Linked DNA regions of Homo sapiens. The protein of the gene in region 2 purifies or fractionates together with the protein of the main gene of each other region. This does not show direct contact. Each region holds a gene or a part of one and is shown on either strand. Other genes may lie near its edges.

The links. Proteins that work in one complex are often made in the same cells at the same time.
Region 1: the proteins of TPPP (region 2) and MAN2C1 purify together in Homo sapiens (affinity purification with mass spectrometry; one large-scale study listed by BioGRID and IntAct). This does not show direct contact.

What each region holds. Positions count from the first base shown.
Region 1 is NC_000015.10:75,362,107-75,365,754, forward strand, and holds part of MAN2C1 (alpha-mannosidase 2C1), read right to left. Parts: intron 2,560-3,648; coding exon 2,382-2,559; intron 2,083-2,381; coding exon 1,893-2,082; intron 643-1,892; coding exon 536-642; intron 348-535; coding exon 237-347; intron 1-236. UniProt on the Homo sapiens protein: Cleaves alpha 1,2-, alpha 1,3-, and alpha 1,6-linked mannose residues on cytoplasmic free oligosaccharides generated by N-glycoprotein degradation pathways.
Region 2 is NC_000005.10:676,290-679,937, forward strand, and holds part of TPPP (tubulin polymerization-promoting protein), read right to left. Parts: exon of another isoform or gene 3,220-3,648; coding exon of another isoform or gene 3,023-3,219; intron 1,776-3,022; coding exon of another isoform or gene 1,772-1,775; coding exon 1,461-1,771; intron 328-1,460; exon of another isoform or gene 1-327.

The sequences.
Region 1 (3,648 bases), on a different chromosome or scaffold from region 2:
TCCATCTGCCTGAGGGGGTGCCCAGGACTAGGCCATGCAACTTGTCACAGCGCTGGAGGCTCTCCTCCCCCTTGAAGTCCCAGGCCTTGAGATCCCAGGGACTAATGAGCCAGCCCTGCCACACAGCGGGGATGAGTGGCCCGTGGAAACTCACCAGCAAAGCCGGGAGGGCGGGGCTACCTGAGGGAAGGCTGTTGTCATACAGTTCAAGGCTGAGGAGTGCCCAGTGCACTTACCATCTCCACCCAGGTGCCCCCCACAGGCACAAACTGCCCACGGCACGCAAACTCCTGGATGCGGGAGTACAGGCCAGGGTAGCGGCTCTTCACCCATTCCAGCTGCTGCGCCTGTGGGCAGGTTGAAGGGAGCTGGGACCAGAGTGACAAGGGCCCCACCCAGGACTGAGCATATGGGACTCAGTGTGTGGCTGAGGGTGAGGAGCAGCCCTGACCCCAGGCCTGGGAAGCCTTCAGGGCCTGTGGAGCTCCAGGGAGGGCCACGTGCTTCCCTCCTCCCTCACAGCTGTCCCTCTGACCTGGGAGCAGGCAAAGATGAACTCAGGGTTCCGCTCCATGAGCTGCAGGGCGGTCACCCAGCTCCGGGCACATTTCCTCACAGTCTCTTTGAAGGGCCAAAGCCAGGCTATACGGGGAGTGAGGTGGAGGACAGAGGGAGCAGCAAGGCTGACCAGGCCTGGGCTGGGACTCCAGAGGGTCACCTAGCCCCCCTCCCATCCCAGGCCCTTCACCCTGGAAAGCCCTGTGGTGTCCCTCCTAAGTGGTCACTTCACTTCACTCCAGCGAGGTGGGAGGAGGGGCTGGGGAAAGGAGGCGGCAGTGCTATGAGGCCAATTATACAGGTCAGGAAATGGAGGCTCCAGGCCCCAGAATAGCCTCAGTCCTCTTGGGGAATTAGACATCCCCTAGAGGATCCTACGAGAAGTAGCAGGGACTACCCTGCCCCTGCACAAACTTGATGTATACCTGGGAACAGAGGCATGGCTCCCAGGATGGAGCCAGCTGTCCTACCAGAGGTGCTACAGCCTCTCCTGACTCCCAGGCTGCAGTTCCTCCCTTACCAGCCCAGAACCTCTCACACCTTACCCTACATCTTGGCACAGCAGAGAAAGCCCTTGTTCTGTGATCCCAAAACTTCGGCTGCATCAGAATCAATACCTTCAGGAGCTTGTTAAAAATGTGGATTTCCCGTAAAACTCAGACACTGCAAACTTGTCCAGGAAGCCTCTCTGGAATCCCCCAACCCAGCTGGAGTAAGTACCTCTCCTGTGCTCTCCAGTGCCTCAGACTCCCCACCATTGTGACACCAACTCTGCCTGCTGAATCTGTCTCTGTAATCCTACCCTCAATATCTAGCATGGGCCCCATGAGGCATCAGATTTTGTTGAAAGAATAAATGAGGCTGGGCACGGTGGGTCATGCCTGTAATCCCAGCACTTTGGGAGGCCAAGGCAGGCGGATCACCTGAGGTCAGGAGTTTGAGACCAGCCTGGCCAACGTGGTGAAACCCCGTCTCTACTAAAAATACAAAAATTAACCAGGCATTGTGGTGGGTGCCTGTAATCCCAGCTACTAAGGAGGCTGAGGCAAGAGAATCGCCTGAACCCGGGAGGCAGAGGTTGCAGTGAGCCGAGATCACACCATTGCACTCCACCCTGGGTGACAAGAGTGAGACTCCGTCTCAAAAAAAAAAAAAGTGAATCCAAAGCAAGCAGAGCCCACAGTCCAGCCCCCCGGCCCCGTTTTACAGACGGGGAAAACGCAGGTCCAAGAGGAGCAAGAACTTGCTGAGCATCACACAGTGCTTCTAGGGCACATCCAGGTCTTCAAGGGCACTCCTGCTTCCCCAGCCAGCCCAACCAGCTGCTGTCCTACCTGTATCAATGTGGCAGTGCCCTGTGGCATGAATGGTGTGTTGGCTTTCACCCCCATGTTGGCCAAAGAACCTGGAGGCCAGGGCCTGGGCCACTGGGAAGGTCTCGGGCTGGGCAGGGTCACACACGTTCACCATCTGATTGGCTGTGTACAGGGCCTGGAAGCTGCGCTGGTTGTCCTTCCCGAGGCCCTGCAGCAGGGTTCTGCCCCTTAATCCCTTTTTCAAGCACAGCTTCCAGACCTAGGCTCCACTGATCTCAGGGCTCTCAGCAGAGCTCCCCTGACCCCCAACCCTTTTTCCCTGCTGGTCCCCCTGCTCAGCACCGTCTCCCTCCTCCCCTTCACATAGGAAAATTCTCTCAACCCTCAAGCAGGTGGAAACCCTCGTCCTACTCTGGATTCCCAGAGTCCCATTTATCTGACCCAAAGAACAACCTTCTTGGAGCAGGGCTCTAGAGGGTAGCAGGGGGTACAGGGGGTGTCAAGTACCTTGGCTATGCCCAGCAGCAGCTCCAGATCCACCAGGAGCATGTGGACATCCCGGTGGAACACAGCTAGCTCAGCCCGGCTCAGCTGGAACATCTTCTCAGGGTCAGGGGCTGCAATCATGCTTCCCTTCCCGGCCCCCAGGAGCCCATTGCAGGCTACTTCCACATAGAGAGTGAGGCTACAAAGATGGGGAGACAGCCTCAGGCTAAGGGACTGGCACAGTACTCCGGGGACTTGGGGAAGGGGCACCCAGGAGGCATCCAGCTGAGCCCAACCTGTCTGCTTCCAGGATCCACTACCCAGAGGATCCCACAGTGTGACAAGAGTGCATGTGGGAGGGTTGTGGTACAAACACCAGATGGATCCCATGTCTTGCTGTCAGAGAGAATAAGTAGCAAAGTTTGGAACCATGTAAAGTACGCTGCTGTTTAGTCTTATATTTCCAAAGTTGTCTTTGCAAAGCACTGCCTTGGTCTTGGAACCCTCTTTGCATATTAAAATCATGTTCGGATCTCCCAGGCTCAAACTTTTAGACCCAAGATCTAAAACCAACACGGCCAACATGGGCGGGCCATTCATTGGAGAACAGGCTGGGCTGTGGTGATGCCATACTTAGGCTTCAGAGAGCAAACACGACTTCCTTAGGGAGGCCTTCCTGACTCCACTTCGCTGCTAAGTCTAGAGCAAATTCCTCAGTGGAGTACCCAGGATTTCCTTCCAGAGCCCTCAGTTTTGTAATTATATGAGTGAATCTGTCTCCCTTTGTTGGCAAGGGCTATTTTATTCACCACCATACTCCCAGTGTCTGAAAGCATCTGAAACAGTGTCAATCTATATAAAATACATTCATAATGTCTAAGAAGTGTTTTTAATGGTGTCATAAAATGTCCATGTTATAACATGGAATGTAAGAAGTCAGGATACAATCTTAACTAGTAAAAACTATACCGGGATGAGCCGGGCACGGTGGCTCATTCCTGTAATCCCAGCACTTTGGGAGACTCAGGCAAGTGGATAGCCTGAGGTCAGCAGTTTGAGACCAGCCTGGCCAACAGAGTCAAACCCCGTCTCTACTAAAAATACAAAAAATTAGCTGGGCATGGTGGTGGGCACCTGTAATCTCAGCTAGTAGGGAGGCTGAGGCAGGAGAATTGCTTGAACCTGGGAGGCGGCGGTCGCAGTGAGCCGAGATCGTGCCATTGCACTCCAGCCTGGGTAACAAAAGCGAAACTCCGTCTCAAAAAAATCCAAAAAAACCCCCCCGAAA
Region 2 (3,648 bases):
CCAGGGGATGTGTGACCCGGGAGACACATGTGACATCGCCACGGAGCACAGCAGAGACGGAACAGCTGCAAAGGTCACGGCGCCCACCCAGAGCTGGTAGATGGGGCGCTGGCGCCGCAGAGGTGGGCCCCACAGCCTTCCACACAGGGGCATCTGACCCACGGCCCGGCCCCTTGCAAAGCCAAGGCCGCAGAGGGGGAAGGTGCAGGAGCTCTGAGATGAAAGAGGTGATGAGTTTGCGGCAATGTAGGAATGAAATACATCGGCCACAGGAGGACGCAGGTGCAAACCACCGAAATAAAGCCATTGCCACACAGGCGGACAGGACGGGGCTCAGGGAGAACCGCTGCTTTTCTCGGGTGCGATCATGGTGGGGTGTCGGGACATGAGGTGAAATGTGCTGGGGCGTGTGAGGGTGCCTCAGTGTGCTTCCCAGCATTCATCCAGGAGAAAACAGACAATGCGTGACACGGCAACAGACGTGTGCACACATGACACAGAAACGCACGTGCACATGCAGAAACACATGCACACATGCGCACACGTGCACACACGACACAGAAACGCGCACACACGACGCAGAAACATGCACACACGACGCAGAAACGCGCACGCGCGCATACACGACGCAGAAACGCACGCGCGCACACGACGCAGAAACGCGCACACGTGCACACAGAAACGCACACACGACGCAGAAACGCGCACACGTGCACACGCAGAAACGCGCACACGTGCACACACGACGCGGAAACGCACACACGTGCACACAGAAACGCGCACACGTGCACACGACGCAGAAAAAGCAAACGGCACGATGCGGTTTCAAGGTGGTGGCCGGAGCCGCCTCCTTGGTGCCCTTTGCCATTTTGCCGCCCGTGGGAATCCTGGGGCAGAAATACAGCAGCACAAAGGCTTTGGGAGGGGCTGGGGGACACCCGAATGGCCAGCTCCATGCATGGGGACACAAGCATCCAACCTCTGAGACTCAGCCGCTGAGCCAGCCCACAGAGGGTCAGGAGCTCTGCCCGCCAGCAGCCACCTGCCCCTCCAGGCTCCAGGCAGCCACTGCCCCCACTCCTGGGGAAGCCCAGTGATCCCAGTCACAGCTCCCTGACTCCGGGGAGCAGCATTCACCCCGAGTCTGCTCTGAGGCCAGACATCCCCTCATAGGCCACCTCCCATGCCGAAACCCTACACACCCACGGGGCTGAGAGGAGCCAGGGCTGCCACTCAGGCCTCGGCACCGAGAAGTCCGGCAATGCCCGGACCCCTGCTCCCTGGGGGCCCAGATGGCACGTTCAGGCTCCCATGTCAGGGCTGCTTCTGAGAAGGGCGGGGTCTTGAAGCACAACCCCCTCCACTCCCCATGGCCCGCTCCCCACAGAACCCACCCAGGGGCTCAGGGCCGCAGACCCCCGTAAGTCAGGTCCCTCGGCCCGTGAGCCCAGCGCACTCACTTGATCTTGCTGAAGACGATGTCCACGTCAGTGACGGTCACGTTCCTGCCGTCGATCACCTGGCAGTCCTTGCACAGCTTCGACCAGTTCTTGCCGTGCATCTCCCTCCCGGTGGCCCTGGCGTCCCCGTGCACGGCAAAGCGCCGGAAGGCCTCCTCCAGGGCACTGAGCTCAGGGGATGCGGCTGCCCCCTCACCAGCACCCTCCGATTCCAGCGACAGCCTCTTGGCTGCCCGGTCCTTCGAGGGGTCCCCCGGGGACTTGGGGGGCGTCCTGTTGGCAGCTTTGGCAGGCTTGGCCTTGTCAGCCATGTTGCTATGGAGGAAGGAGAGGAGAAAGGTGTCACCCGGGCCATGTCCCAGCTGAGCCGGGTGCAGCCCAGGAAACCCCGCCGTACCAATGAGCACCAGGACGTGGCGAGGGCTGAGATGGGCAGGCCCTCCTGGGGCTGGGCGTGAGGCCCCTCAGACCCTTGGAGCCAGCTGCCCCGCAGGCACGCATGTCCAGCCCCGGGCAGAGTGGAGCCAAGCGAGGCCTTGCCCACTGCCATCATTGGGCCAAGGACCCCCTAAGCCAAATAAAGCCAGCAGCACGCAGAGCCCAGGGTGGGAGCTGAGCTGGGTGCCAGGGGCTCCAGGCCTAGGAGGCTCAGTGTGTGACTGGCAGCATCAGAGCCTATTCCGGGTCCCCTCCCCGCCGCAGTTCCACTGTCCCTCCTGTGGACGCCCGCTCTGCAGCTCTGGAGGACACCTCGGGATCACGCACTCCCCAGGGTCTGTGACGTGCTGCCTTCCTCTGGGAGGGTCCACAGCAGTCGTGCGACAGCCGCTCCCTCCCCACTGCAGAGCCTCTGACCTTAGATGGAGCTTTAGGCTGGGGAGGGTGCGTGGTGGCCCTGGGGGCGCCTCAGGATGCTCTTCCCAGGAGCCCTGGGCCTGGCCCCGGCCAGGGGAGGGGACTGCCAGTGTGCAGGGCTGAGGCAGTGGTGGGGGCACCGGTGTCAGGGCGCAGGGACGCCCTCTGGACTTTGCAAGGCGCCCGCCCCCAGAGTAGGCGGCTGGGCCATGGGGTTGAGAAGACTGAGGGGTGCCACCCAGGCAGGGCTTGGGGACGCAGGGCTACGCCACAGGGCAGGGCTGCCGAGGCCACCTCCCTACCATGCATGGGCTTCGGTAAGACCCAGTCAGGCCCTGAAGGACTCAAGGCTGAGGTGCTGGACTCAGGGCATGAAAGCTGCTTCCCAAAGGGGCCTGGACACCAGGTGGGCCGTCAGCACTGCACTGAGAGCTGAACATGGCCTCTGCCCACAGACACAAGAGCCGGTGGGAGGGTCCGTGCCGAGGACACAGGTAGGTGTCCCAACCCTGGGACTCACGAAGCCCTCTCAGATCTGGAGTTCTCAGCGCCAGTCATGGCCAAAGTGTGGCTCTGTAATCGTGGGGTCCTGAGTGTGGCCGCTGCTGACCCTGAGATCCCACAAATTCCCCCAAAACAGCCAGAAAAAAATCCAGGGGCACTCCCTCCACTGAGGACCTTAAGGGCCTCAGGCCCCACCCACTCACCCCTTTCCCTGGAAGGCACCAAAAATGCAGATGCCAACCCAGCGGAGGATGCAGGGGCAGGATCCTGGTGGGGGCTGGGCCGCGTGGGGGCAGGATCCTGGGGGTGGAAGGGCCGCCTGGGGGCAGGATCCTGGGGGTGGAAGGGCCAGGTCAGGTGTCGAGCTGGGAACAGTTTCCAGTTTTATCGCTGACACCATTTCTTTGTCTGAAACAGGAGCTTCTCACAGGCCTGGTCTGTGTTTCCCCTGGGCCTCTGCAGCAGGGGTCGCTGGACAGGAGGAGCAGCTGAGAAATTACCAGAAGCAATGGTGGGTTTTGTGAGCACCCAGAACAGTGGTGGGTGTGCGGGTCAGAGAGAAAGAACCTTCTGGGATGCTTCAAACTCAGGGCTGCGTTCTGTGGTCTCATCTCCTGTGGGGACGCGCCTGAACAGAGACCCTTATTCACACACCTCAGAGAGTCATCTGAGAACCTGCACCCCGTGGGGCCCGCCTGGGAGCAAAGGGATGAGGGAAGCCCCTCAGAGCCACCTTCAGGGCTCACGCAGGACTTCCCAGCCCATCAGCACGTGCTTTGCATGAGGTTTTGATAAGCTTGGAGGTTGGCCTTGGAGGGCTGAGCGGGAC